Linked DNA regions of Homo sapiens: region 1 is linked to region 2. Evidence: fine-mapped expression QTL. A gene starts in region 2. The other region holds a variant in brackets. All regions are shown on one strand. Distances are from middle to middle. Region 1 overlaps MIR31HG (MIR31 host gene). Region 2 holds the start of MIR31HG (MIR31 host gene).

What was found.
Region 1: its variant is fine-mapped to the expression of MIR31HG in fibroblasts (GTEx, PIP 0.98).

What each region holds. Positions count from the first base shown.
Region 1 is chr9:21,484,392-21,500,760 of GRCh38, forward strand. The region is part of intron 1 of MIR31HG (MIR31 host gene); the gene reads right to left. Among named protein-coding and RNA genes, the nearest start is that of IFNE, 10 kb to the left of the region's middle. RefSeq lists an enhancer at 2,889-3,478. The variant G/A (reference allele first, on the strand shown) is at 4,417.
Region 2 is chr9:21,550,366-21,566,734 of GRCh38, forward strand. It overlaps MIR31HG (MIR31 host gene), which reads right to left and starts at 9,433. Exons shown (of 3, transcript NR_152879.1): 1 at 9,124-9,433. RefSeq lists an enhancer at 8,208-8,994.

The sequences.
Region 1 (16,369 bases), 66 kb before region 2:
GTTGTTTTCTATTGCCCATTTTATCTCCATTATTGGCTTGTTAGTAATACCACTTTGTTTTACTTTTTGTTTTCATAGCAGTTTCTCTAGGATTAAAAATATACATCTTTATTTAACATATTACAGTTTACCTTCAAATAATATTACAATCCACTTAAGGTACAGTGTAGGGATATTATAACAGTATCCTTATATTTCCTCTCTCTCATTCTTTACACTACTTTCACTAATATTTCTTATATTACACGTCCCCTGGAAATAAACTCTCTTGGCTTTTGTCTGTCTGAAAAAGTATTGTGTCTTCTTTTTGAAATATATTTTTGCTGGGTATAGAATTCTAAGTTGATATATTTTTTCTTTAAGAACTGTAAAGATGTTGCTCTACTCTATTCTGGCTTGCATAATTTCTGAAGAGAAGACTGTGGTCATTCTTAATTTTATTCCTCTGTGCATAATGTTTCTTCTTTTTCTCTGGCAGCTTTTAAGATTTACTATCACTATTTTCTAGAAATTTGATAATAATGTGCTTTGGTGTGATTTTCTTCTTGTCTCTTTTACAAGGTTTTTTTTGAGCTTTGTGAATCCATGATTTTATCATTTTCATCAAATTTGAAAAAGTTTCAGACTTTATTTCTTTTAACATTTTTCTATTACCATTCCCTCCTTCCTAATCTCTTCTGGGACTACATCTCTAGATGTGTTTGACTGTTTAATATTATCACACAGTTCCCTGAAGCTTTGCTCATTTACTTTTTAGTCTTTTCCTCTGTCTTATTTCTAATAGTTTCTAAGTCTGCCTTCAAGCTTATTGGTATTTCCTTTGGTAGTATCTTATCTACAGTTAATCCCATCCAGTATATTTATCACTTCAGATATTATACTTTCATTTGTAGAAGTTGAATTTGTTTCTTTTTCATATCTACATTTCTTTCCTCATCACATTCATCTTTTCCTCTACATTCTTGAGCATATGGAGTACATTTATAGTAGGTGTTTAATCTCCTTTTCTGATAATTCTATCATTTGTGTCATTTCTGAGTCTGGTCTTGTCAATTATATTTCTACTCTTTATGGGTCCTATTTTCCTATGTCTTTTGCATGTTTGGTAACTTTTGAGTGGATTCTGAGCATTGTAAATTTTACTTTAATGGGAGTTGGATTTGTTAAGTCCTTTACGTACAGTTGAACTTTGTTTTAGGGTATAGTTGAGTTACTTGGAATTGGATTCCTCTGACATTGGCTTTGTTAGCATGAGTGAAGCAGACTTTATAATTTAGGGCAATGCCTTTGTAACCAAGAATATAGTCTTTTGAGGACTCTACTTAATGCTCTCTGAATTTGGAGATTTTTGCCCTCTGGCTGCTGGAAACATGAAATATCCCCAGCCCTGTGTTAGCACTGGGGACAGCCTGTACTGCCTGCTCCTTTCTGGGTGTTCTTTTCCTAATCGGGTAACTCCTTTACGCACATACACAAACCACACATTAGCTAAAGACTCCTGAAGACATTTTTACAGATCTTCGTAGCTCTCATTCATTCTTCCCCAATTTCCCTCTGTGCAGCAATATCTTCTCCAATATTTTTCTGCCTCCCTGAACTCCAAACTATGACATATCAACTCATTGAGAACACTGGTCTGTTGGAGTTTCCTCCTCTTTGTGCTGCAGCCTGCCAATTTTCTATCCAGCATTAAGCTGGAGCAATTGTAGGGCTTACTGTATTTCTTTCCTTTCTCTCAAGGATCATTATCTTACGCTGTCTGTTATCCAATGTCTAAAAACTATTTTTCGTATATTTTACTCAGTATTCTAGTTGTTCAAAGTGAGATGATAAATCTAGTTGTCCCTCATGACTAGAAGTGGAGGTTCTCTCATTATAAATAATCTAAAGTGGGAGTTGGCAAACTATAGCCTATGGACCAAATCTGTCCTACCACCTCCTGCTTCTTCTTTTTTTTTTTTTTTTTTTTTTTTTTTGAGATGGAGTTTTGCTTTGTCGCCCAGGCTGGCGTGCAGTGGCTTGATCTCGGCTAACCGCAAGCTCCGCCTCCCAGGTTCACGCCATTCTCCTGCCTCAGCCTCCCAAGTAGCTGGGACTACAGGCGCCCACCACCACACCCAGCTAATTTTTTTATATTTTTAGTAGAGATGGGGTTTCACTGTTTTAGCCAGGATGGTCTCGATCTCCTGACCTCGTGATCTGCCCGCCTTGGCCTCCCAAAGTGCTGGAATTACAGGCGTGAGCCACTGCATCTGGCCTACCACCTACTTTTGTAAATAAAGTTTTACTAGAACACAATGATGCTCATTTGTTATGGCACTTTCATGCTACAATAGCAAGGCTGAATAGTTGTGATAGGAACTATATGGTCTACAAAACCTGAAATATTTACTCTCTGGTCTTTTACAGAAAGGTTTGCTGAACCCTGATCTAAAAGATTAAAAACAAAATATAATTGTATTCAAAGTCTAGAAATTTTGAAAATGTTTTCACAAAAAATGTAATCTAAAGTAAATGTTAAAAATATTACATATTTTATATTTTCAAAAAACATGAAATATTTTATACAATGTTATCTATCAAAATTAAAAGACAACATGTGTGGTATAATTAATATCAAATTTAAACTGACAGTATTTAAATAAAGCATATACTTAACCTTTTAATTAAAAACGTATTAAGCATTAAAAATGTTTATAAAAGTAAAATTACATGCAATTCTATCTTACAAGGTTCATATGGATAACAATGTAAAAAAAAATGTATCACACTTCCAGCATATGTCTAGACCAACATAAATTAAGATTTAAGAGTAAAATAAATTGATTAATATTGAGAAATATTTTCCAGCCTCCATGTACAACTATTGCCAATGCCCATCATAATTTATGAGTCCCTCCTGAATCACTAATTGTTTTTTTTTTTTTTTTTTTTTTTTGAGCAACATGGCTCTTTATTTCACCTGGGTGCAGGCGGGCTGAGTCCGAAAAGAGTCAGGGAAGGGAGATAAGGGTGGGGCCGTTTTATAGGATTTGGGTAGGTAAAGGAAAATTACACTCAAAGGGGGTTTGTTCTCTGGTGGGCAGGAGTGGGGGTTCGCAAGGTGCTCAGTGGGGGTGCTTTTCGAGCCAGGATGAGCCAGGAAAAGGACTTTCACAAGGTAATGTCATCACTTAAGGCAAGGACTGGCCATTTACACTTCTTTTGTGGTGGAATGTCATCAGTTAAGGTGGGGCAGGGCATGTTCACTTCTTTTGTGATTCTTCAGTTACTTCAGGCCATCTGGGCGTATACGTGCAAGTCACAGGGGATGCAATGGCTTGGCTTGGGCTCAGAGGCCTGACATTCCTGCCTTCTTATATTAATAAGAAAAATAAAACAAAATAGTGAAGTGTTGGGGCGGCAAAAATTTCTGGCGGGTGATATGGACAGAGAATGGGCGATGTTTCTCAGGGCTGCTTCAAGCGGGATTGGGGCGGCGTGGGAACCTAGAGTGGGAGAGATTAAGCTGAAGGGAGGTCTTGTGGTAAGGGGTGATATTGTGGGGATGTTAGAAGAAACATCTGTCATATAGAATGATTGGTTGGCCTGGATACGGTCTTGGATGAAGTGACAAACTAAATGGAATAAGAGAAGGAGAAAAACAGGTATAAAAGGACTAAGAATTGGGAGGACCTAGGACATCTAATTAGAGAGTGCCTAAGGAGATTCAGCATAGTCCTGCCAGCAAAGATTATTTATTTACTTCAAGAGTTTAGAGTGGCAGTTTGGGGATAGCACCAGGAGATATCAGCTGCGATGGCTTGGAGAAACAGTGTAAACCAGCAGTGTAAACAAGAGCAGGGCATGTATGAGTAGTTGAGAACGGTGAATAGGAGTATGACTAACAGATGAGGATGAAATTTGGGCTTGACTGAAGTAATGGGGGCTGTCTGTGAAGCCTTGCGGCAGTATAGCCCAGGTAATTTGCTGAGCCTAATGGGTGTCAGGGTCAGTCTAAGTGAAGGCAAGTGTTAACAGGCTTTAATCCTTTCAAAGCATGCTGTGGGATGGGATATTGGCATTGAGCCAGGTAAGGGTGATTAGGTTTTAATGAGATGGTAAGGGGTGCATGATCGGTCGCCAAGGAGGGAGTAGAGGTATCTTATACTTGTGGGTTAAGATGGGGGAATACAAGAGGAGGACGCAAAAGAGGCTTTGGATTGGGAAGAAGGGCATCAATGAGATGCGGCTATGGTCCAGGAATAGTCAGGGAAGCAGATAATTTGGTTAAAATGTCTCAGCCTAATAAGGGAACTGGGCAGGTGGGGATAACTAAAAAGGAGTGCTTAAAAGAGTATTGTCTAAGTTGGCACCAGAGTTGGGGAGTTTTAAGAGGTTTAGAAGCCTGGCCGTCAATACCCACAACAGTTATGG[G/A]GGCAAGGGAAACAGGCCCTTGAAAAGAAGGTAATATGGAGTGGGTAGCCTCCGTATTGATTAAGAAGGGGACAGACTTACCTTCCACTGTGAGAGTTACCCGAAGCTTGGCGTCCGTGATGGTCTAGGGGGCTTCCGAGGCGATCGGGCAGCGTCAGTCTTCAGCCGCTAAGCCAAGAAGATCTGGGAAGCAGTCAGAGAGCCTTGGGCCAGAGTTCCAGGGACTCTGGGAGTGGCTGCCAGGTGAGTTGGACAGTCCGATTGCCAGTGGGGTCCCGCACAGATGGGACACGGCTTAGGAGGAATCTTGGGCTGCAGGCATTCCTTGGCCTGGTGGCCACATTTCTGGCACTTGCAGCAAACTCCTGGGGGAGGAGGTTCTGGAGGAATGCCTGGCCGCTGCGGTTCAGGCGTTTGGAAGTTCTTGTGTGCTGGAGATGTGGCTGGGGTTTGTCTCACAGTGGAGGCAAGGAGTTGAAACTTTTTTCTATTATTGTACACCTTGAAGGCAAGGTTAATTAAATCCTGTTGTGGGATTTGAGGGCCGGAATTTAATTTTTGGAGTTTTATTTAATGTTGGGAGCAGATTGGGTAATAAAATGTATATTGAGAATAAGATGGCCTTTTGACCTTTTAGGGTCTAGGGCTGTAAAGCATCTCAGGGTTGCTGCCGAACGAGCCATGAACTGGGCTGGGTTTTTATATTTGATGAAAAAGAGCCTAAACGCTATCTGATTTGGGATAAAGAAAAAGGAGCATTAACCTTGATTATGCCTTTGGCTCCAGCCACCTTTTTAAGAGTAAATTGCTGGGCAGGTGGGGGAGGGCTAGTCACGGAACGAAACTGTAAGCCCGACCAGGTGTGAGGAGGGGAGGCGATAAAAAGATTATAGGGTGGAGGAACGGAGGCTGAGGAAGAATTGGGACCTAGCTCGGCCTGGCGAGGAGGGGAGAGGTCAGATGGGTCTGTAGAAAAGGAAGATTAGAAAGACTCAGCGACGCTTGGGGTTGGGACTGAGGGGACAGGCGGGAGGGAAAGAAGGAAGATTTGGGACGAGTTGCACTGGGCGCAGAGACTAGGAAGGGACTGATGTGTAAAAGAATGCCTGGATGTCAGGCACCTCAGACCGTTTGCCTATTTTACGACAAGAATTATTTAGATATTGCAGGATGGAAAAATTCAAAGTGCCATTTTCTGGCTATTTGGAACTACTGTCGAGTTTGTATTGGGGTCAAGCGGCATTGCAGAAGAAAATAAGGCATTTAGGTTTTAGGTCAGGTGAGGATTGAAGAGGTTTTAAGTTCTTAAGAATACAGGCTAAGGGAGAAGAAGGAGGAATGGAAGGTGGAAGCTTGCCCATAGTGAAGGAGGCAAGCCCAGAGAAAAGAGTAGAGACACGGAGAAGGGGTGGGGGTTTCTTGCCCTCCAGAAAAGCAGAGAAAGGGTTGGGGCACAGAAATAAGGGATTGGGGCGCAGAGATAAGAGGTTGGGGCATGGAAATAAGCGATTGGGGTGCAGAGATAAGAGGTTGGGGCGCAGAGATAAGAGGTTGGGGCATGGAAATAAGCGGTTGGGGGTTCTTGCCCCCTAGGAAAGCGGGACTCGCCGCTAAGGGTGAAGGAGAAGGGGTTGAGGGGTACTTGCCCCTGCCCCAGGAAAGCAGAGAAGGGGTAGAGACAAGGAGAGAAGAGGTTGAGGGCTATTTGCCCCTCTCCCAGAAAAGCAGAGAAGGGGTAGAGACAAGGAGAGAAGGGGTTGAGGTACTTGCCCCTTCCCCAGAAAAGCGGGACTTGCCGCTAAGGGTGAAGGACCAAGGCAGGCGTCCCTGCGTGGTCTGACACCCTTGAAACATGGCTGAATGATCAGAGAGGCGTCCCTGCAATGATTAAACACCAAGGGAAGGCTGCCTTCCCAATCCGTGACCGGCGCCGGAGTTTTGGGTCTATGAATAAAACGTGTCTCCTTTGTCTCTCCCAGAAAATGAAAGGAATTGAAATTAAGAGAAGGGAGAGATTGAAGAGTGGAAAGGAGAAAGTGGTTGAGGGACAGTGAGAGAGGTTGGAGAAGAGAGTAAGATGAGGCCGCTTACCGGATTTGAAATTGGTGAGATGTTCCTTGGGCTGGTTGGTCTGAGGACCTGAGGTCGTAGGTGGATCTTTCTCACAGAGCAAAGAGCAGGAGGATGGGGGATTGATCTCCCAAGGGAGGTCCCCTGTTCCGAGTCAAGGCACCAAATTTCATGCGCGTCCGTGTGAAGAGACCACCAAACAGCTGAATCACTAATTGTTACGTAAAGACAAGCAAGAGAATGGACACTGGGGACTATTGAGACATGGTATTTCATTTTGTAAGAATCTATTGCGTTCCTGCTGTCCTTGAGGAAGGGTTTACTAGGCAATTAATGTGTCTTCTCTTTCCTCTGCAGCTCAAATCCCCTACATTCCAAGGCAACGTCTCCTTCATGGCATCAGGTACAGTCAATTTTTTGTAGGGGACTGAAAGCAAGAGATGTGGAGAAATATCTCCCTGGGTACCAAATGGAATTACTAATGAGCATGTATATTTAGAGTTATTGGGCCATATGTGAGCACTGAGTACCAGATCCTAAGTGATGTGGGTACTAGATGCTTTTTTAAAATGTTGTGTGTGTCTATGCATGTGTGTGTATGTGCACTTCCGTGTGTGCATACACATGTGTTGTATAAATTGAATCATGTCTGATATTCAGGTTTCTCAAAAGGGCAAGACCTAGAGTAGAGCATAGGTCACTCTTGTCTGAATCTAAGGATGGTATTAAGGAAATTCACTGCATGCTTACATTGCTTAGAGAAAGACAATGGAAAGTGTCATGATGATGAAAAAAGGGCTAAATCTTAAGTATCAGTCAGTATGACGAAGTCTCTAAAATAAATTAAACAAACGACTGGTAGTTCATCTTTAGCTAGAATGGGCTTTTCAATGACTTTTAAATTTATTACATAAGTATCAAGTTTTATTTATTCACTTGTCTCCATAAATTATTTATCATTACTGTCAATCTAAAAAATGTAATTAAAATTGTGATACCCTCTGTTTAAAACACACAAAAACAGTTCCAGTTAGTAAACGAGGCATTTTAAATTCAACCAAAGGATGGCAGCATAATATCAATTACTTAGAGCCTGGGATAAACTTTGCTGTTGGTAAGATATCACAAATTAATGGTATCTAGTGGTCTGATAATGTATGATCAGCAATACATTACTCAGACCAGGTGTATTGTTCCCATAACACATTAGCTCACTAGTCTGTCTAATCCATATTAAGATACTTGCTGGTTAGTATTGTTATATTTTCCTTTTTTGCCTTGACCACTCTAATGGACATGCCTTGCTTTCTGGCCATCTACTACCTCCTCTCCCTTTCTGGGGGTCGGGGGGTGGGGGCGTCTGTAAACATATTCTAACTTCTCTGACCACTCTGGGATCTTGTGCTCTGGCCAGACTCTCCAGCGTGCCACACACAGGGTGCCACATCTAGCCCTATCCCAAGCTACTCAGCGCCTCCCTTTGCTCTGGCCTCAGTTATTATTTCAGATATGGTTATTTTTCCCAATGGTATCGACACAGCTCTACTCCATTTTCTGAGCATAAACTTTCAAATATTTGACCATATTAATTTATCTATCATAGAATTCTGGAGCTGGAATTGATCTTAAATTGATATCTAATCTCTGCTTCCCTTTCCCTTTTTGAAAAATTCAGTCCTAAAGACAATAGATGGACAAAACAATGTAAGCATTTTGCTGGAAAGGGCAGGAAGCCACACTGCTGGAGCTCAGACAGGCAAAGGTGACTGTTTATGTGGAGAGAGAACCTGGCATGGGTGTCACAGCCTAAGAGTGATTAGAGCATCCGTGGAGCGGGGCTGCTGTGGGGAGTCATAACTTGAGTGGAGTGAGGAGAAATATTCTGTAAAACAATTGCCCTGTAATCGTTCAAGGTCATGAAAATCAACAAAGACCCAGCAACTGCTCCAGACTATAAGAGACTAAAGAATATAGCAACTGAATGCATAGCATGATTCTGAACAGGATCCATTTGCTACTAGGAATATTATAGGGTCCAAGCACCGTGGCTCACACCTGTAATCCCAGCACTTTTGGAGGCTGAGGCGGGTGTATCACCTGAGGTCAGGAGTTTGAAACCAGCCTGGCCAACATGGTGTAACCCCATCTCTACCAAAAATACAAAAATTAGCTGGGTGTGGTGACGGGTGCCTGTAATCCCAGCTACTTGGGAGGCTGAGGCAGGAGAATAGCTTGAACCTGAGAGGTGGAGAGTGCCGTAAACTGAGATTATGCCACTGCACTCCAGCCTGGGTGACAGAACAAGACTCCATTTCAAAAAAAAAAAAGAATATTATTGGATTATTGGGACTACAAATCTAAATACGAACACTGAGTATCATATGGTGCTAACGTAACAATGTTAATTTCTGAATTTTGTTGTGGTTATGCAGGGAAAATATCTCTGTTGGTAGGAAACACACATTAAAGTATTTGACAGTATTGGTGCATCAGCTTGGCAACTTAAATTATTTCAAAAATAAGATTCTCTCTCCTGTATTTTCAACTTTCATGATTATTTCAAAGGATAAAAAGTGTGTTTGTATTTTTTAACTAAATAATCCACATTTGAGACATGATGACAGAGGTCTAACAGAGCAGAATAGCCTTCTTTTTGTACACTATCATCAACTATACTGTTCTCCCTTTCCCTCTTCATAATTTAGGCCAAGAATGGCAAAAGCACAGTAGAAAGGAAAAGACCACCACTTCTCATGAAAATTGTATAACATGATACTCAGCACATGGGCTTTAATGTGCAACAGAATAGGTTTAAACCCCAACTCTACTACTTGCTTGCTGTGTGGTTTTTAGCAAGCTATTAACTTCTCTGTGTCTCAGTTTCATCAATGTTAAGACAAGTATAATAATGGTGTCTCTTGGAGTTGTTGTGAAATCTAATTGAGATAATCCACCTAATATGTTTAGTATAGTGCATGGCATGTAAGCCATGCATAATAAATGTTATTATTTATGTTATTATTAAAATATCATTTATGCTAAAATGATATTATTAATAGATAACGGCAGTCTGTTCCATCAAGCTCTAGGTAAGTACTTTCAAAATGCTCTGAGGGTAGCCCCTATTAATCAGTCACAGCTGGAAATAAGATGAAGCCCATTTTCTATTAACTGCTTTTTCAACAAATGTCAATTAATTCAAAGAAAGAAGAACCAAGTGTGTACATACTCTAGAAGCACTTAGATGACATGTATTGGTCCTCATGTTATTAATTCATTCAAGAAATGTTTATTGATTGCTTATTATGGTCCTAGCATTGCTCCAGGCCCTGTTCAGTTAAACAGAGATAAAGATCCCTGGAATGGAGTTTGATTGGATTAGGTAGGGTAAAAGGGGAGAAATAGTAGAGTATAAGCAAATGACATAGCACAGCAGTCCCCAACCTTTTTGGCACCAGGAACCTGTTTTGTGGAAGATAATTTTTTCCATAGACCAGGGTGGGGGAATGGTTTCGGGATGATTCAAGCACATCACATTTATTGTGCACTTTATTTCTATTACTATTATATTGTAATGTATACTAAAAATAATTATACAACTCACCATAATGTAGAACCAGTGGGAGCCCTGAGCTTGCTTTCCTGCAACTATCTTTCTCATTTGGAGGGAAACTATATTTCCCATCTGGAGGTGATGGGAGACAGTGACAGATCATCAGGCACTAGATTCTCACAGGGAGCACGCAACCTAGATCCCTCCTATGCCTAGTTCACAACAGGGTTCGCACTCCTATGAGAGAATCTAGTGCTGCCACTGATCTGACAGGAGGCAGAGCTCAAGAGGTAATGTGAGCAGTGGGGAGTTGCTGTAAATACAGATGAAGCTTTGCGCACTCACCCGCTGCTCACCTCCTGCTGTGTGGCCCTGGTTCCTAACAGGCAATGGAGCAGTACCGGACTGTGGCCTGGGGATTGGTGACCCCTGTTATAGCATTCTATAATGCAGATGTATACCAGAGTAAAATCAATTACGAGCATCTCTTTTTTTCTAAAGTTATTGACCTTCTGTATACAGAATGACACAAACAAATTGCTCAAGATCAATCCCCAAGAAACACCAATATTTAAGCAATGAGTAGAAGAGGAGACCAAAAAGTGAAATAAACAATGTCTAGGCCAGGTGCAGTGGCTCACACCTGTAATTCCAGCACTTTAGGAGGCTGAGGCGGGTGGATCACCTGAGGTCAGGAGTTCGAGACCAGCCTGGCCAACATGGTGAAACCCTGTCTCTACTGAAAATACAAAAATTAGCCAGGCATGGTGGTGGGTGCCTGTAATCCCAGCTACTCAGGAGGCTGAGGCAAGAGAATCGCATGAACTCAGGAGGCAAAGGTTGCAGTGAGCCGAGATTGCGCTATCGCACTGCAGCCTGGGGGACAAGAGCAAGACTTCGTCTCAAAAAAAAAGAGTGTCTAGATCAGAAGGAAAACCAGTTTTCAAGAACAAAGGATTGTGTAACAGTGTCACACACCACTAAGTGGGCAAGAAAAGTAAGTACTTGAAAACATATGTTGAAGTTAATTACATGGACATTATCAGTGACTTTGGCAAACGGAATTTTCAATGGAGTATTAGGGTGGAAGCCAGATTTCAATTCTTATAAGAGGAAATGGAAATAAACAACAAAATGATATAGGATATGCCCACAAAAATTTGATCACTACATCGAAGAGAAAAATTAACTGAAAATAGGAGTGAGAGGTTCAGTCTTGGCAAGTTTTGTTTTTTATCTTGTTTTGTTTTTTAAAGTGAGAAATATTCTCTGTTGATTAGAAGAAACCAGTAGAGTAGGGAAGAAATGGAACCAGAGCCTCATGTTGGGCTTGGTCTGTAACAGGAAGGAGAAAAGAATAGGATCAACACAGGTTTGAGTGCAGGTTTAGAAGAGGAAGCTCAGTGTTTCATTCTGGTGGTTTCTATTTGTTTTCTTGAAGTGGAAGACTAGAGCACGTGATGGACCATCTATGAGATTAACATGTGCCCTGGCACATTCTATTTTCTTTGCTTTGAAACCTGTCTTGTCTCCCAATTCAACTCCTCTTCACCCAGCTGACATGCTCTTACACATGGGCTTATAGCTCCATTCATAGCTATCATTATAGTCTATAAGATTTGTGACCATTTGACTAATTTCTCTCTCTCCCTTCAGAGGGTCCTATCCGTTTCTGTATTTTGCTTACAGTGCAGCCACACAGTGTAGCACACTACATTCCAGCCCAAAATACAGTAGACACCCAATAAATATCCCATAAATATTGAATGAATAAATGAACTTATTCAATAGAGGAGAAAGAGGTGTTCTAAACTTGAAGGGAGGGGGCAAATTTTAGGGTTGTGATAGAAAGAATGTGAGGGAGAGTTGACAAAGACAGGAGAGCAATATTGAGTATCTGCTTACATAGATTGGTGAACTAAATTAATAGAGGCACCAATTTGTCTTGATTTAAATAAGCAGAGAAGATTCACAGTCCATCCAAGGTTGGGACTTTGGCAGGTGAGAGTCAACTGAATGACAATGAAACAAGGGATTCTAGGATATTGGTAAGAGAGCTGTAGAAGTATTAGACCCCATGATCTACAACACATAAGTTTGAATTGTACATAGATTATCAAATTCAGGGGCAACGTAGTTCTCCCCAAACCCTCTGCTCATGTTTAAGTCTTAATATTAGTCTTTAGTCTTAACACTTTACGTACAATGTAATATTTAATACACAAGTCACACTGTTAGATGTACAGTGTCACTTGTATGTCCACTCAAATGGTGATATCGAAATAACAGCCATTACTTACTGAGTATATATTATGTATAAGACACTTCTTGAAGAGCTTTATGTATTTGGTCCTCATCATCTAATTCTTTTCTTTCCCTCTTAATCCTCAGCAGGATTCTCCGGTAAAATATAGTAAAGAAACAGAGACTCTTAGCATAACAACACGTCAAAGTTACAAGAAGTGGCCTAGTTATCAAGAGAAAAATTTATCCTACAGATGCTCCATTGTGACAAAATTTAAAAACCTAAGCTTTTTAAAGGTAAATGTTAAAAGGTACATGAACACTCTAAAAAAGATGTAGGCAAGTATGACCATCATGATTCTGAGAATGTTTCATCATGTGTCCAAGAGTGAACCAAAAACATGAACAGAAAAGGGAGGAGAGATTAAGACAGAGGGAAAATGGAGTGGGGGAGATGAGAGATATGAAACCCTGGACAACCATCTGAGATGGATCTCTGTGGACTGAAAAACATCTCATTAAAAGAAGTTAAGAGATAGTTTGAATGTTCTCTAACTCTAGGTGTGTTCACTGTTGATTAACCATGAGATTGTTTTATTTCTGGGAGTAGACAACACACCCTTGGCTGTCCAAAATTATTTTATTGACACTTAATACTCTTACTATGTGCTAGGCATTTGTCTAAAGGAATCACAAATATTATTAATAATTTATTTAATCCACAAAACTACCTTATGAAGTACTATTATTATCCCCATTGCACAAATAAGGAAACTGAGCTACTGACATATTAAATCCAAATGTTGTGTGCATTATTGAGAGAATAAATATAATGTTATTTCTAATCTTTATAATATTCTTGAGAGGCAGGTCTTATGATAATAAGATCATTTTAAAAATGAAAATAAAAGAAACCTATGATTTAGAAAAGTTAACATTTCCAAACATGGTCAGCTGGGATTTCTACTTCTGGTCATGAGGGACTGACAGGGTCAAGAATTACCCTCCCTCTACAAACAATTTAAAAACTAAACAAAATATAGGAAACAACTATTTTCAGTCATTGAAGAATAGCCAATCCAGGACTGTGATCCCTGAGAGATGGGAAACAAATGAGGCTTTTTGCCTGGGGGCAATTTTTAGACTGTGTTGCAGGGAGGAGGACCCTTTCTGAGCAATCTCTCTCAGTTCAGGAGACAGAGATAAAAGTCTGAGGAAGCCAAAGCATATGAAATTTGCAAGACAGAGTACCCAAAAGAAGTGAGCTACCCAGAAAAAGAGTTCTAGAATTTTTTTATAAGGGTCCCCTTGAGTCTTTGGTAAATGCTAATGTGTACATGCACTGGGTAAAGCCCTATGAGGCCCAGCAAGTACAACCTCCAAAGAAAGAATAATTGCTGGGGAGCTTTAAGCCAAACAACTTAAGCGCACATTCAAGACTGAAAATTGTTCAAGTTCCCACCAGCCACAGGGCAAAAGACCCTAAAAGGGCTAAAACTTAAATGTGGGGCTAAATTAGCCCGAAAGTAAAGACTACTACAGATCTGTCTTAAAAGAACATAAAAACAAGACTTTAATCAAACTAATCCACAATTACCATAGCTGCCTACTGAAACAAAATCCAACCTGTTTAAAGGAATACAACAAAATCCGTCACACAAAAACATACAATCACAATAACTGGCATTCAATTAAAAAAAACTACCAGACACAGGAAATAAGAATATATAAACTATAATCAGGAGAAAAATTAATAGAAAATAAATGAGATGATAGAATTAGCAAAAATATTAAACTGCTATCATAAATAGGCTCCATGTATTCAAAGATATACAAGAAATTAAGTATAAAAATAAATGAAATCTTGAAACAAATGTTCAAGATATAAAATACAATATCTGTAAAGGTCATTAGATAGCCAAATACAACAAACAAAGACAATTGATAGTAAATAAAATTAAAAGTCAGCTCCATGTGACTGTAAGGTATTATCGTTTTCCATGGTGCATTCCATTGTATGGTGCTCTGTAAAAAGCCACAGCTAACAACAAAAGCATGCATGTCACCCCAAACAGAGGGACCATGAGTAGAGGGACAAATGGCCATGACACAAGGAAAAGAACAGTTTTAGAATCAAAATAGACAGAGGCTCAAATTCTAGCTCTGTAACTTATCAACTAGGTAAACCTACATGAGTCTTCGGAAACTGAGTTTATTCCTTCATCTGTTAAATCAACATAGAAAGGCCTACTTCATACAAAGCAATAATTGATACTACAGGTAAGAAAGTATTACCATGTTGCTTGACACATAGGCACATAAATCTTTTTTCCATAGCTGATAGAGAAAAACCCTAAAATTCTCATGTATATTCAAGAAACTAAAGAAATATTGCTGATTAGAAGGCCTGACCCAGGCTCAGGAAAAGTTATGGTGTGGTGTGATGTGGTGTGTGTGTGTCTGAGTGTGTGTGTGTGTGCATGTGTGTGTGTGTGTGTGTGTGTAGGGGGTTGGTCCTGGGTGGGTCAGATGATATCAATGAACATATTTTTCTCTGAATAGCATGCAAAGTCTTAATGAATACTGCTCTTCTGACCTAAAAAAGGTAACAGGCATTCTAGGTGGAAATCATCACAGAAAAGGATCTACCAATATAATTTAGGAAATATAGCAAGTCAACTTTACCTTGGAATTAATGCTCTGTTTTTCTCTTGGAAGAAACAACATACTGGATGTGTCAGTGTTTTACACTAAGATAATAGTGGCTCTGAAATCTAGCCTACCAAATGTACAGTGCTTGGGAAGAGAGTTAACTTTTTAGTAAGGCTCCATTTCTGTAAAAGAGGAATGCTGATGATTAACTTGCAGAGTAATTATAAGGACTAAAGAAGATAACATGTATAAATTGCCTAGTAAAGACATTAGTAATTTAATATTTATTTATTCTCTGACCCTTTGAAGTCCTGCCCCAGCCCCCCAATTCATATTTATTTTATCTCTTGGTACCAAGAAATCCTCCTTTTGTGGGAACTGAACTAAGATTCCATTCCACTGGCCCTCTGATGTCAACTTCTTCAGTTTAGACTTGTCACTTCTTCCTTTCCTGAAGAAATATTTGAAAGATTAAAAGAGACAAACACCAGCGAAGTCATTGTAACCTCACAGGGTTTTTGTCACATTTGGAATTCATTAATCTGAGTTTTGAGAAGAACTCAGTTGACTTCACTCCTTGGTAGAGCAAAGAGAAAAATAAACGAGAAGACGATATAATATTAAAGAACTGGAACCTTTGCCCTTTGCCTTCTTAATCTGGCCTACATTTCTCAAGGCTCTAAGCAATTACCAAATGACGGAGTTGTCTAAAATCAATTCTGCTTACTTTGTGTAACTACCAAAAATCAGATATGAAGACTGGTGCCTGACCTGGTCCAGAGATTAATGAGTTTGCTGAGCAACGAAGTCTAACTACCTGGTTACACATTTTTCTTGGCACAGTCAACAGCCAGGACCAAAAGGATGTGTGAAGGCTACGGTCTAAAATGGTTACAGGAAATACTGAGATTGGTGCAAGTGGTATCAAAAGACCAGATGGGAGGCTATCCAAATGACCTATAGAATGCTATGCCAGAAACCCAAGTTCATCTGAATGCCAGGTAAAAATACGCTTGTGGGCTAACATAAGAATTGCCATCTCAAACAAGGTACTTTCTAAATAAATCAGCTAAAACTAAGACAAGATATTGCTGCTTAAAAAAATCTTAATTAAAAGTGTAATATTAGATCTGTAAAGCTCATTATAAAGACTAAAACTGGTGTGCCTGGGGTACAAAGAGGGAAGAGTGTTAGACAGATGTACTTAGATACAATTTCAATTTTTTCTGGGCTTAATTACACTTAAATATTGGGCCAATTAATCTTCCTGATTAACTTCCTGAGGGCACCCTAGCTTGACCCCATCTCTCGGTGTCAAACTTCACTTTGACTAACCTAGGAAGCTGGGAAACCCAATCTGAGCCACCTTTGGTCACGTATAAATGCAAAATGAAAGAGGTCATTCTAAAGTCGTGAAACTGAGAGACTGCTGCT
Region 2 (16,369 bases):
TATGCAGAATCTTGCAGGACTGAACACTTTTAGGGAAAGGCCGGTGTGGTGAAAGGGCATATACTGAGACTCTATAAACAGGATTCAGCTCTTGAGTCTATCACTTATCTGCCATGAAGCTGGGTAAGGCCCTTGACTTTCCTTGGCCTCAGTGATCACCAACGCAAAAAAAAAAAAAAGCCCTTCCAGATCAGAAAGTCTCAGCTTCTCTGATGCTCCTGGTTGTAGCATATCACTGCAGACCTCAAAGACATGCACTGTCAGATGTCAAGGACACCAGGGTCAAGCAAAATGAAGAGCTATGACAATTCCCAGGATAATTATGCTCCCCAAATTCCTGTTACTAAGGAAGCTCAAATATCCAATGTGGGAAATCAAGAGGAACATGATATAAAAACTAGCCTTATCTGTTGTGTTTTTGCAAATGCAGTCTAACTTTTTAAACAGAAAGCAAAACTAGCAAAGAACAATATGGTGCAATTTTTTAAAAATCTCAACTACCTAAAGTGTAGACCAGTATTATCTCCTCAATTATCTTTTAGGTGCTAAATAAAATCAGCACAGAATACGGCAAGAAAGGATTGCTACCTCAAGGAACTAAAACTCTATTTGGGGAGGAAAATGCACATATATCAGACATCCCGTGAGTGCTGACAGTTTAAACAAAGACCAATGGGAGCAGAGTCATCTCAGTTATTGCCATTTTTGATAAGTCAAATGCACAACAGCAAAATACAAAATAAAATTTAAAAATGAAATATAAACATTTATCTTTTCGTTTGGGTTTCCAAGTAAGTGTTTTATACCACCTTATTGTTCAGCCATCATTGACAGGGGCCAGGAAGGTATTTAAACTGCAGGGTATGTGTACTATTTGTCATTCACTATACTCTTCCTCCCTGAGTGCACTGGTAAAAGTTTGGCCTGAATCCTCCATGCATGACAGAGATGTACTTTTCTGGGATACAAAGTGAAATGAGTATGCCTCGTATTGTCCAGGGCACGATTTCTTCATATTACAACCTTAAGATATTTTAAATTGTATAACTGGAATCTTTTACTCTGGAAGAATAGCCAGTGTACATATAGGTTATCCTTTCTTTTAATCCATTAAAGTCCATACCCATTTCATGACTCTGCATGGCATCTGTAATCTTGGGGTCAGGGAGGGAGAAACCAAGGTGTATGCTAAGACTCTTCTGTCCTCAGCAACCCTCTTAACCCAGGTACTGCTTAGATTGAACAGGCCGTGGTAACTGATAAGCAACATCTGCTCATTTCCTCATTGTTCACTCTCATACATGACTATGCATAAACTAGTGTCATTTTCTAGAATTCCATAGGTTCCACTAACTCTATTTCTGATGACAAACTTGTTTGTCTTTTTTTCTTTCGAAACCTTATGTTTCAGATGAATTTAAATGTAGTCCCTGTTTTTCATTTCCAGACACAAAAAGAGACAATGGCTTCCTCTTTTCAAACTGCTTTAGAATATTCTTTTGTTCAGAATCTCTTTCAAAATGTTGAGGTTTGGTTGTCTTTGGTGGTGTCCCAGAATGATGGTTTACATCATCCCGCTCTCAACCTCTCCCCCCATGCACAAGCTTTGCTTTCCTAGAATATAACCACTCTGCTCTGGTGAGCCTCAAAAGAAAAATTCTGATTTTAAAAATCTAAAGCTTTAATTACTTTTACTATTTAAAAGCCATTTTCCATTATAAAATTTATCATATAAATTTGTCTAGTTTTGTCTTTAACCTTTTTGCTTTGACCTTTGAACATACCCTGTTATCAATGTTTTTGCTATTAAAGCTCCTTTTGTTTCTTTGCATTTTAATCACTGTTTTGTTTCATTTGCAAACTGACTCCGTTCACTGCTTAGTCCTCTGTTTTGGTTCTTTTATTGTGTCCCCATGCTGAATTTCAGACACTGCAAAATGTGAGCCCTGAAAAGGGCCTTTGCATTTACCCTATTCAGGAGTGCAGGATCATTAACCACCACAAAATAAAAACTAGTTCCAACTTCCTCTGCCATCAGGGATAGAAAGCAGTGGGGAAGCTCTGAGAGGGAAGGTAGACTAGAGCCAAAGGGAAAGCATAGGTCCCGGTAGTGCTTCACCTGGATATGGATGTGTGTGTGTGTATGGAATGGTAGTGTCCTTGCATGTGGAGTTCCCATAAGTTCCCTAGAAGAGTTACAGTAACAGCAGTCACGTGAAACTTAGCAAGGAGACCTTGAAGATTTTAAAAACTCTTAGGCAGCCCTGAAGTGGGTCCTCAGTTTACACACTGATAGCCCAGGCAACTCACCCAAAGCCACATGGGAGTAAACACTAGAGATTCAGCATGGCAACCCAGATCCCTTCCTCTAATAGTAGGATACTAGCAAATACTATTTGCAAATACTATTTGCTAATACTATTTGTGAATACTATTTGCTAATACTAGCAAAGCAACATTTCCACCTTATTCTTTGGCTTTTACTTTTTCTCTTGTGAATTTAGTTCTATGAAATCTTGTTTCAGCACACATCTTAATTATGGCTGGCTCTGACAGTTCTGTCTCAAGTCCACAACTTCAACAGACTTTATACCCACACACAAGATCTATATATCCACGCCAAAGGTCAGGTGTGATAATAATGAAGAGGGAATTATCATTTTTAATGATAAGCTACCCACACTTGTTACTATACTTTGCAAGCACATATTATAATTTTCATAGGCAAAGACATATTATCCTTTTATTCATTGTCTCATTCATTGTTTTAATAAATGTTCAATGAACACCAATTTTGGGTTAGGTGCCTCGAAGACTATACTTATATTCCAATTCCAGTGCCATGGCTCTAAAAACAATGATCTATATGGTTCCTTTAGTATGGTCTTCAGAGAAAATTTAAATATCAGATTTAGTACTTTAAAGACACTATCTGCCTCTTTTGGTCATAAACATTAATTACTACCTATACCATCTGTGTCTTTTGCCAGACTTGGACATGAAGGACTTTGAATTAGTTCTAAAAATAAAAATTAAAATATGTGCTATAGCTGAGGACATCCAAAATGCTGTACAAATGACTCCCAAACAGGTTTCAAGAAGAGTTCCACAGATATTCTGCTTAATTAATGTGATATATAACAAAGTAATTAAGAGCAGAGACATAGAAATAGGAAAGACTTGGATTGGAGTCCCAGTACTACACCATTTATTAGCTGTCTGACCCCTTTAATCTCACTAGGCCAGTTTTCTTCTCTGTAAAATAGGAACAATCATGGCGCTTAGATGGGAGGGTTATTTGAAGCTTATCTGCGGTAATATAAGTAAAGCATGGAACCCAGGAAATGATCAACAGAAAGCGCTATAATTGTTATCACTGCTTTGACAATCAGAAGAGTTGGATGCATTTTATTTTAATATTTACTTTTGAACAAAATATTTGGATGAAGCTGACACCCTGGCAGTTTTAGAAAACAGTTTTGTGTTAGTTCTAGTTAGTATTTTAGATGTGATCTGAAATAAAAGTAGACAACAGTCAATTATGTGGCTCTGTTTATATTTTAATAATTTATTTCCATTTATATTTTAATATTTCCAGTAAAATTTATGTTTATAGCTTAGCTAATAGAACTATCTAACACATAGTAACTTGCCCATTATTCTGAAATATGTGGTCTTATCATTTCTACTTCAATAAATTTTGCAAAACAAAAAGGCCACCAACACTTACGATTAGCATAACGAACATCTTCAAAAGGAAAATTTACTTTTCAAATAAATCTGTTTTTTAAATTATTCTTAACTGGGCTATAACTAGCTCTCCATTTTTATATTTCCTTTTGACAGTGTGTTAATTTACAAAAGGAAATACAGAACATTAGCTTTGACCAATTGATAAATACATTTATTTTAAAAGGAAGCTGAATCTTTAAAATGTTTTGATCATCTTTGTCAGTTCATAAGATTTATGGCTATTTCTCCAGAATTTGAAAACCTCTTAGCAGCAAAAATAAAATTTATATTAAAGATTTATTATTCAAAAAACCATCTAGTTGGGTAGTCTTTTATATCTCTTTCCGTTACCTTTCCATACAGTCTTCTTTTGTCTACAAAAATATTTTCAGTCATTTCTGGGTATTGAAAGAAAATATCTTTTAGCTTATATTATTTAATACTTAATAACATTAATATGTCATTAAATTTTTCCTCATATAAAAACTAGAAATTTATTTCCAGAGATTAAAAAGTTATGATAAAATTCTAATTATTCGATTATTAGAAGCAATTAGAAAGCTACTTAACACATATCAGTCCAGGTATTAACCTGTAATTTTTACTTTGAATTACAATTCAAACTACTGTTTTTCAAGACCTCCATTTAATTTGCATAAACATATTCATTTGAAAAGTGAATTAATGTTGCAGTTTTCATTCTGTTATATCATCCTAATCCCAATTCCAAAAGCATAAAAAGCAATGTAAAATTTTATCACTGTTAACGTGCTAGGAAACATGCAGCCATGTTATAAAATTATTAAAGTCCAGCTGCAAAAAAGCTGGGGTTTGTGTATTTGTTTTCAAATTTTATCTACTTCCATTCTCACCTATAAAAAGGAAATGAGTTTTGAGTCACGGCACAGAATATGAAAAGAAAATGTCAAGTGACAATATTACCAGTTTTTACTTCAAAAACCACTCTAGTTAAAAGCTACTTAAATCCTAATTTTTAAGGCTTCATTTACTTTATGTGGATTTTACTTCAGAGAACTCACACTTTTAGTGCTTTAGTCCACTGCTTCTTATATGAAATTTTTTATTTAGTTAATGAAGTTGAGATAATCAGTAAAAGGTTTGATCAGTGAGGCAAAACTCCCCAGGATAATCATTCAATAATGACTTTATGACTGGAATTTCTACTTCAACATGTGCTATAACTCAAAAATCTCAAGTTATTTTAGATAGTAAGATCGTACCAGTTTGACTTTTGGGGAAATCAATCCTTTGCTTGTATTCAAACCTTGGACTCTAAAATAGTCTCACCTCACATACTAGAAGCTTCTAGAGCAGGACTTTCTGAGATGATTTCTTTATCTTATTTTATACATATCCAATTTACTAACGTGGCCCAAGTCCACCTGAAATTTGGCAGAAATAAGACGTCAGTTGTCGGATTACACTGGTTTTTAGATGCAGTTCATTTTCCTTTCCTGCTACCCTCCTCAGAATCAAAATTACCTCTAAGCAAAGAACCTAGATTTAAAATACAAAGAAGAAAATCCAACACAGAATTACCTAAGGAGAAGTGAAAGAACTTTTCTGTAACCAATGCTATGCCTTCTTGGTCACTTTAATATTTGCCATTTTATTGTACTTTTCCCCTCTTCCAAATTGTAGAAGCACTCTATAGAAGTAAAACAAAAAAGAGAACTATAACGCAAACTCTTAATAATTCAAAATAAGTGAAAAACTTAGATTCTTGAGCCACACTCCCCTATATGCTACCTACCCTGGCGGACTTACAATCAAATCATACTTTATTTCTTTCTAATTAGGTTGAAAGTAGTATGAACAAGGCTACTGCCTATACACAAATGGCACTAATTTTCCCATTTGGGTCTAAGTCTTTTAACTTCAACTGTTATGCCCCTGGCAAGGAAGTAAAGCTGAATTGGACAAGACCAAAACATTTCGTGGGTTTGATTTGCTGCGGATCATGAAGTTGGCTTTGCAAATGGCAGAGAAGGGGACTCCTTCACTACTGCTAACTCACAGGAATCAATGTGAAAGAGCTGTGGGGAATTAAGACTCAGAACTTCTTAACTGGCTCAGATTCATATGGACTCAGGCTTATCAGGCAGAACTATGATCAACCCACGTAGCAGGTTTTATTAATTTTCCCTATACAATCTTTCACCGCTCAGTAGTCGATCCTTTGTCAGAGGCAGCACAATCACAGAAATGGAAACTGGGCCACAAACTGCTTAGCATAAATGTTTCCAAGGCCAATAAAAATGGCATTTTTCCCCTGCCATTTGCCCAAAAGTATAATTTTTATTAATATAATTATTATTTTACTTAAAGAATCAGTGCTATTTGGACATTGCTCTTAAATGGAAATTACTTAATAACACATTTAATTTAGAAATTGGCTTCTAAATTAATGCTGACAGCTTGGAAGCTGGTATTTAGACAAAATAGAGTAAGCTGTGTATTCGATAAAGCCATGATTAAGGATTTTCAAATGAGATTTATTTTTTCTGTTGTCTGCTGTATTTTAGTACAACCAATAACTACATCCTGACAAAAAAATTCAATTACATAATAAAGCAGAAACTTCTAGGAAGTCCGAAAGTAAGTTTTGTTCTCAGACTCTTTTTACTCCCCTCCATACTGCAAACCAGCACACATATATACAATCGATTTTTCCCCTTCATCTAGACTCTTACCAAAATTATTTTAATAATTTCCTGGACTGCCTTCTCACATAAGATGTGGATAAAAAAGCCTCAATATCCATAAATACAGCAAGCACTTATATTGTACAAATAAAATAACTGACTTACTTTCTAAACACTTAATTGTATTTAAAAAGATGACATAGTTAAGAAGTCCTCAGTGAAACTACAGTTTATAACACAAAGATCAAATTTCGCTGTTTCTTAGTTAAGATTGACCTACCCTAGATCCAACAAAAGTTGCTGTTTTTTTTCCTCACTTCCATAAAAATTTCTGAATCACTTGGGAGATTATTTCTAAGGAAATAGTTGTGAAACCAAGAAGCTGTTCAAACTTAAGCATCAATTCTTTTGTTAATTCATTTTATGATTAAAAGAACTACCAAAAACATTACTCTCTAAGAATCCTATCATTATATGTATTTTAAAGTGTCTTCAAAAAGCCATTTTATCTTAAAGCTGGATTTCATTCCTCAAATGTTAATAATCTGGGATTGCATCTCTTGCTTTTTTACAGTTAAAATTTGTTTAGAGCCCCCCCGATGTTTATATGCCAAAGCTACCTAGATACACACAATGAAGAAAAACTGTGGCAATTATATGAAAAATATAATGACATCTGTCATTAAATGTCAATGTTTCAAGTAAAACATTTCTTATAAAAACCTGTTACTGAAGAAAAGAACTGTTAAAGTACATGAATTAAAGTATTTTTAATTATCCCAAATACGTACCAACCAAATTTAACTACAGCTTAGTTTTTTAGGCAAACCAAGATGACTATTTTTTTTAATCTGAGAAAAACATGGTATGTAGAAAAATTCTATTTTATTCAGTTCAACACTCTTCACTTGAGGATATGAAATTTATAAGTATGCAATCTCCTTGAAATTGTAAAAATATAATACACAATTTTATACTACCTTCTAATTTTACTTCCTCAAGCATTTGTTGTAGTTTCTAGAATAGCTATCTAGCCATTACACTGTACATAAAAGTGATCCTCCAATTTATTTCCACTTCTAAAAAGATGCTTAAATATAGAATAAAGCATTTCATACCTCCCTTCTCGTTTAAAATTCCAAAAAGGGCCAACAATCCACATTATAGGTTAAACACTTTGTCTCTGTTATACACTTTTCAGAATTTATAAGACTGAAAAATTATAAAATTTCATCCAATGAATAATTCTGTACTTTATTAAAGTCTGGTTTCTCTAAACATTTACCTATCATCTAAGCAATATTAACATGTACAACAAAGTAGTAATATGGTATAAATAGAAAATAAACACTCCAAGCTGATAATTCCATAAGGTCTAATGATTCTATTAAAACAAACACAAATCAAAATTTTCCATTTTAGGGCCCCAAATTCAACTTGAAACATTTTTTATATGATAAGATTAAAGCAGCTGCCCAATTTTCAGGAAGCTCTGTCTCAAGTTAAGGAAAAAAAGAGAAAGGAGGAACTATAGTTCTTTGGGTGACTTAAATCACTGCCTTTTTTACTTTTTTTGCCTTAAAATCAAGATAAAGTTCTCACCTAAAGATTAACCTCTGAAGACAATGAAAAATAACCAGGATTGGACTTTAAAAAACAACTTAAAAGTCAGCCCCCTCATACAAAACTCGACAACAAATAAACCTAGACTTAACTGTCATTTTCAAATCCAATTTTTACCTGAATTGGTAAAAATTTATTTAAAACAAAATGCAAAATACAATATTGTTTCAATTTTGGCCCAGGAGATAAACACTTTAATGCAGAGTTAATAAACTCCAGCGAATAAATAGGATCATTTTCCTAATTTCACTTCAAAGCTGCCAGGATTTCAATAAGGAAGTTCAAAGGCCCGATTCCAGAAACTAGAGGTCCCCGGAAAGTGAGGGGCGTCTGGCCACAGCCTCAGTTCCAAACCAGGTATAGTTCTTGAGCTGTCATTCTTAGTCCTATTACCACTAATACAAGGTCAAAAAAACGGTCCTGTAAGGTGTCAATTAAGGGGTCACTTTTGCCTAAGGTTTCCTTAACTTCTCTCCTAGTGAAGCCGCTCTAAGTGAACATTTCCGCTGTGTTTTTTTTAATGACTGCCATTGTCTCGCTGGAGAATCGGAGGCTCTTTTAGAAGTACTGTTGGAAAATTCAGGATTTTACAAAACATTTTCTCAGCTGTACAGGGCAAAAACAAACTTTAATCCTACTAGCCATGGGTGTAAACCACAAGCCTAATTTCTCTTCTAAGAAGGGAAAGCTTAGTTAAGTTTTAAAGTGACAGTAATTTTAGGTGGTAAAATGAGCTCAACTCAAACATCGCTGTATGAAAGCGCTCTCCGCCAACACGCTCATGGACACACACAACTCCTTCCTCGAGGTTTAGGGACAGAGAGCGAACCTGTGACTTCGGGCCAGGATGACGACCTGAGATTTGGACAAGAGGAGGCGGCGGTTCCGCGAAGAGCCAAGGGCGGCCGGCGCTCCGGGATGCGCCGGACCCCGCGGCGCATCCTCGTTTGGGCGCCAACGGGCGCCGGCGGTCCTCGGACCCGGGTGTCGACTGCCGTGTGCCCACTGCCGTGTGCCCAGGCCCCGAAGCCTCCTCAACTCCTTGAGGGGCGCCTCCCTAGCCAGCTCAGCGCGCAGCGGGACCAAGGCTCTCCCAGCTTACCTGCGGGTCCGAGTAGGAGGACAGAAGCGCCGCCCGGCCTCGCCCAAGCGCACACGAAGGGGCCGCTTCCCGCCCCCCGCACCCCAGACCAGGCGGCTCACGGAACACCGCCTCCCAGCTCTGGCCCGGGACCAGGCGGTCCCCCAGCCGGCTTCGGCGCCGCGGCCGGGGACGCGCGTCTTCCTTCTCCAGGCGCCGGACGTGGAACCTGCGAGCCCCTGGCGGCGCCCCAAGTTATGCACAGGTCGCAGCTGCTCACCAAGCTCCTCCTGGGAGGCCGCCCTGGTCCCCGAGAGGGGCGCGCGGGAGTGGACGTTCCCGCACCTTCGCCCCATCCACACCTGCCGCCGCCGCCGGGGCCGCCAGCGCCGTGGCTCCGCCCCGGCTCCGCCCCTCGCCGCCCCCGGCTCCCGCTCCAGCCGCCGCCGCGACCGCCGCGGAAAGGAGGGGGAGGGAAGAGGCGCCTGGACGGGGCTGCGGGAGCGGCCGTGCTGAGCCTCCTCCCTTGGGCCCGGACGGGACCCAGGTTTCTCCACTGCAACGCAGCTCCCGAGTGACGGAATTTTGTGGGGGAAGCGGCGGCCACTACGCTCGCTTTTGGCACAGTAGCCCTTTGCGGGTGGGAGCTTCTCGCAGTCAGAGCTAAGGGAGAGGGAGTCCACCTGCAAGAGCCAGAGCTCGCCCTTGTACTCTCCGAATGCAAACTTAGCAAATTGAACAGCGGAAGTACTTCCTTGGTCGGACCCCTGCTCTTCTAGGGGTCTTCTAGAAACGTGGCGGCTATCACAGGCCCCGTGGTATAACTGGCATTTGGAAAACGAGGGTGTTTTTCCATCTGGAGTGGCCTCTCTCCTATCCTCAACCCTCCGTGTCCTTCGACGCCTCTCTCAGATGCCATCTCCACCAAGAATTTTTTCCGGGTACCCACCTGCGCCCAGATTTGATTCCGCCCTCTTTGGGACAGCCTGGGTGCTCTGAACCTTTCCACTGCCCCTTCAGGTGTATGAGAGCGCCTTGTGAAATGCATGGGCCATCGTTAGTTATTTTTATTGCAATATGTGGTTTCATATTCAGTACTGTAGTATACAAGCAGAGATATTTATGCTTTCACAACACTTTTCATTTGGGTTTGAATTCCTTAAACATGAAGACTATAGTAAGTTGCCCATCTCTGGAAGTAAATACTGAGGGGTACATGGCAGGGTAATCCGACCCGATGACCTAGCCAGAAGTTCTGGCTGTCCTACTCAACTATGCCCTCCGCAAGCCCAGCATGGTAGCCTTTCACCTGGATTTGAAGGGGAAAATTGTATTTCTCTCTGAATGTAATTACATTTTGGCAAAGGTCAGTCTAGTTACCACCAAAAAATATTCTACGAGTTGAAGGGTGGGGGTGGGAGCGTCAGAGCAAGGTTAATAGTGGTATTTTATTGATTTTGAAGTAAATATAACTCTACGTAGTCATTTGTTCAACCAAAACGAAAAATATTCATCAAATATTCCCTAATAAGTTGGTACTCATTTCCTTAGCCACTTTAAAAAACACAAGTCAAATATAATTGATTATATAAATTGTATTTGCATGAAGATTTGAGTCCAAGGACTATAAGAAAGATTCAAATTTTAAATTTTCTGCATACGATATGGTTAAATAAAATGTTTGTATACTATTTCCTATACCTAAGTGTATGTTTTGAGTTGAGATGTCAGTAGTGTTTAATGGTTAATAGTGTTAAGTAAACGACAGCTAGGAATCACTACAGTTAGCTTAGAACAGGTTGAATTTATGAACTCCCATTTTAAAGAACTGAGAAATCTCAAACCATATGACTGCCTTGACCAAGAAATAAAAAAAATTAAACAGATTCTTAATATTAAAATTTCTGAAAATTTTGAAAAATGAATTTTTAAAATTAACAGTCCTAGTATTTTTAAAAAGCAAATATTTTAGAAATCATGAAAAATGTACCTTAAGATGTAAAAGAGGATAAACCTCAGAGCTAAGGTCTTTTTAAAAATGTAGTTAGTGAAACCTATTCATGGAAAACTCAAAAGCATTCTTTGAAGTGAAAAAAGTACTCTAAATTTATTATGGAAAGTATAGTATCATTGAACTCAAATAGCTATTTTAAACATCGTAATTCTGTGAGTAACAAGAAAAAAAAGCTTTCCTTATATGTGAATCCCACTAGGCAAGACTTTGTCCAAAGTCCAACAGAAAAAAATATTGAATAAACAAGCATAAGCATCTCATTCGTGGAACATATTTTTAAGCTTTTATACAGAAGCCCAAAATAATATTATAGAAAAGATTACACAATTGCATAGCCAAAATTATATATCATAATATTATGAATAGCAAAGAAGCAAAGAAGGAATAATTCACCTCAAATAGCAAATAAACAAAAAGTGTCTTAAGCCCATAGTATCTTTTAGACTTCAACTGAGGCAAGCAAGCTGTTTGGCCCAAGACAAATATACATAATATCACAGTAAACCCAGAGCTAATAGAATACAGCCATAAGAGGCCCACATTGCAAACACACAGGCATCTGTAGCTAAAACTATCAAAGGGGCTTGCCCAGGGTACTTCACATACAACTTTTTGTTCCATCTTACTTCATTATAATGACAGCATCATCTTGAATGTGAGAATTTCCTCCTCAACCTTTACCTGCAAGTAAAAGATGAACCACTACTCATTTTCTAGTTGTACCCTAAAATGAATAAATAAGTCAAAGTTTCTACTGGCATTTAAATTATTTCTAAATATATTACTTACAAAGCTTAATGTATTATTTTAGTGATTAATAATTTCTGTACCATAAAACTTGTTCTGTATTAGTTATCACGTCTTTATACATCCACTGGTAATCAAGGACTTTCAGAAGAGAGTAGAATACAATCTTTATTTTATTTAAAGTTTAAATATATGTATTTAAGATACATATGTGTATGTGTGTGTATACATATGTATGTGTGTGTGTGTATATATATATATATAAATATAAATATAAAATGCACCCACACACATGAAGTACAGGACAAATGGGAACAGAAATGCCAAAACAATCTTTTTCCAAAATAAATATTTATAATAATTATAAAATAAATTATTAACAGAAAGTATACAAAGTGTGCTTTCCATTTCATTTTTAGTTTACTTATTTAGAAATGTTTTTGCATGTAAGCAAACCCAAATTCTGGTGATTATTATTAGTATTGTTTTTGAACAATGAGGTGGTGCAAGAAGCATTGGAAAGAATTTCTTAGCGGTCTCTCTGGCATTTTTTGAAGTTCTAATAAGCTTTTATGTGGAAGTTAGCAGATAATTTCAGTTTAAGTGATTTGACTGATGACATCGACAAATATTTTAATGTCTTCTTTATAGTAGACATGTTATAGAAAAACTTTATATATAAAAAGTTTATATACAGAAAACTTGCTAAAAAGTATTTTATAGTTCTTTACGTAGAAAAACTTGCTAAAAAGACAACACTATAAATATCTATGCAAATGTTATTATCTGTTCAAACTAGATGGTGGGTGTATGAATATCTGGCATCATTTTGAAATGTTTCATAATTAAGAATAAAAGTTGAAATAAGAATATATAACAACGGTAAATGAAATATTGAAATTATTTTAAAAATATTTGTGATTCCCCATTTATCCTTATATAACCTTTAGCACGTTAAAGCATTTAAATGGATTATCTTCCATTTGTAGCCTTTTTTTTTTTTGTAGCTACAATCTCATGCCTGCTACTTTTGAATAATACAGTTCTCACTGTGAAGAGCGAGGTGAGAAGGAAGCATTTTTGGTACATGTAGAAAGGTGAAAATTAATTTTTCTAAAAGAGACAGTGTCATGCTTTTCAAAATAAATATTGTAGGTAAAACAGGAACAAGCTGAAAATATTACGTCATTGTATCTTTATTCCATGCTAAGTTTAGAATGTTATTTTGCCTGGTAGTATTATTTTCTTTAAACGTTTAGTCAAACACACATTTTATTTCACCTAACTTCTGTAAAGTAGAAGTAGGAAAAGAAATATTTAAATTATTGAAAAAACTGAATATGAAAATATGAGCCATATTCTGTTTTATTCCTGGTATGATTTTTTATAAGAACATTTAGAGAAAGCCATAGTTTTCCCTTAAAAATGAAATGACATAGTATTGGATTGTACAGTTGTCTTTAGGTATGCATAAATTTATTGAATGCTAAATCGGTTTCCAGAATTTTTCAACCTTGCCCATTCAGCCCTCATTTTAGGAACCGTCATGAAGCTTGTCTTAATTGAAAATACAGGCAACAACACTAGCTGCTTAAAAAAAAAAATCCCTCATGAGCTGTTAACATACAGAAAGTTAATCTCTGGCTCAGAAATAAGTCTTCCTTATCAATGGCCTTGTTCATCTTTGAATCATCCATATTTTGAAGAATCAAAGGATTTCAGAGGTCTCTATGAGGAAGAGTGGTGGTTCTCAACTCCAACACACTAGGATGATATGGATATATCTACACGGGCTTCCAAACAATTATTAGATTGTTATAGTACAATGCTTAGTTCTTGCTAACTCTGATTTTATCTCTTTCTCCTCTCTTGAAAGAAAGTGAAAGCAATGTTTTTTAACAACTTTAAGTTTGCTCTAATGTAAAGAGATAAATTATTCATACTCATTATTTGTAACCCACCTTACAATTTATAGAGACGCACAACATGTTAAGTAGATAGAGGACTATATAATACCAACCCCCCATCACTAATAGTTTTATTCTAAGGAAAAAAGTCAGTTTACTCCCTCTTACCTGTCAACCTGGTGATGGCTTCCTCATTGTGTGGGTTTAGGCTTTAGCTGAGTGGTGAGATGGAGTATGGAAAGGATCTATCTGACAGGATTCTGGGAGGGGCTGCTCTAAAGTGCTTTGTGGTAGAGATATAGAATTGGAACTACTACTAGGGTCTTACTGCTCAGTAAGACTCCATAGAGGATCAGCATCAGCAAGACCATTTAAAATGCAAAACCCTAGATGATACCCCAGACCTACTAAATCAGAATCTGCATTTTAAGAAGAGAGAGAGAGAAAGGACTTAGAGAAAACAAAAGGTAAAGAAAACATTGGTCTTTCTCAAAGATAGCAGGTCAGCTGCTGAAGAGTTCTGAATAGCACCCTAAATCCCAGCCATCCATTCTTTACTCGAAATTGGACTTATTCCTTCAAGGAATGCATTTATTAGATAAAAGGAGAAAAGTAAATAAATGATGGACTCTGTTTTGACACATTTTGAACAATGGCCAGGTACTTCCATCAGGAAAAGAAAGTGCTAGGGCATCCTGCTTAAAGTAAAGGACTCTTGTCATTAAGCTAGCACACTAAATTAGAATGCAATAGTGTTATTTTAGAGTGGTACAAGACACGTGTCAGTAATCCTTTTTCTGGCATTTTAGTGAGTGCAGTGGAAAATGTATTCAGGCTTTGGAATGAAGTGCATCTCATTTTTACTCTCCTCTCTGACACTTACCTTCATTAAATTTCCAAAATCTTTGTCCCTCCATTTGCATACCAGTAAAAATAGTAAAAATATTGTAATGTATAGCTCATATGGTACTGTAAAAATTAAACAAAATAATATTTATAAATTTGTTAGCAGAGTGCAGGGCACACCATTTATGTTTAAAAGGAGAGAGACAGAGAGAGAGAGAGAGAGAGAGAGAGAGACTTGAGAGAAACACCAGTTCCATTTCCCTTCCTTTGTAATGGTGTTGCTGCACACCTAGTGTGTTCAGTATAGAACACATCAAAGACCGTCAAATGTCTCTGGGCTGTTGGTTTTAAGGCTGAAAAAGCCAGCAATGTTTGGAACCACATCAAGGATTCCAATCCATTCCCACTCCCCATCCGATGAATGACTAGTTAAAAAGTCATGCCCCTGTGCATGTTGAATACAAGAAAAAACAAGTTTACAGCCAAGGCATACTTCTTAAATCCCTGTCCAGCTATGGAAAGAGAGCTAAAATCTAAGCAGATGTCCAATTGAGACCCAAATTATGAACGTGTGCATGTGTGTGTTTTAAAGAAAAAAATGCAGATTATCTTTATGGCCACGACTCACCTTCCATGAAACTATCTGAAATGAGAACTGGCAGTCATAAGGGAGACATGTTGATATATCCAATACACTGAGGTAGAAGGCATTTGTGTGGCTAGGATATGTGAGAGGGTCCTTTTCTCCCTGCTGGGTTTTTTGTTTGTTTTTTGTAAATCTCTTGTGCCTGATACTTGCACAGATATATTCTTACGGTGAGACTTTCTCCCTGGGGAAGTTTTCCTAGACATAGCCCTCACCCCCATCCTCCCATGCTCAGTTGCTTTGTCTGCTGTTTTCCCATATTAAAAAAACAAAACAAGACAACTCTGTAATATCCTTTGCATTGCATCTCCTCTGCTAGCCTTTCAGCGGCAAGTACTATGCTTTATTTTTCTTTGTTTTGTCAGCCTGACCCATTTCCAAACACATGGCAGGTCCTCGATAAATGCAGAAATGAATACTCTGATCCAACATTTGCATTTATCAGACTTGGTATCCCATATGAAGTGTTCCATGAAAAAAAAAAAAAGAGAGACAGAGAGATGTTCAAGAAATCTTGGGCTTAAACCTCAGACCCATTAATAGGCTAACATGCATTGTATTTCTCAAACATTTTTGACCATCAAAACCCACTCCCACATTTTTTAGAGTGTAGCAGGGCACAGTTTGCAAAACACAGCCCTAGTACAAACAAAAGCAGTCCAAACATTCAGCAATGGTTCTTTAATGCTTTCTAAATTACAGAGTGTAATAGCATTTTGACAAAACAGAAATCTCCGTGTAACCAAAAGATTCACAATACTAGATTTTTAACAACATTTAATTCAACGGAATCCCAGTACAATGAAATAATTTGGACACTCCCTGGTAGTATTTTGTACGAGGATTTCACCTGGGTTGGATAAGAATCTGACTAATGTTATTTTACCCAAAGTAAGCCAACACAAAGGGCAAAAGAAGGGAAATATTTGGCATAATATTTTTCCAGGCAATGGTATCAGCATAGTAAACTCAGTAATTACAACTCTGGTTCTAGACAGGTACCCTATACTTTTCAAAAAGCTTTCTGTAGCATTCTGGGAAGATGGTTTGGACAATGGATAGCAAATGAGAAAAGTGATTGTATGAATCAAATTCCTGCAGGTGGTG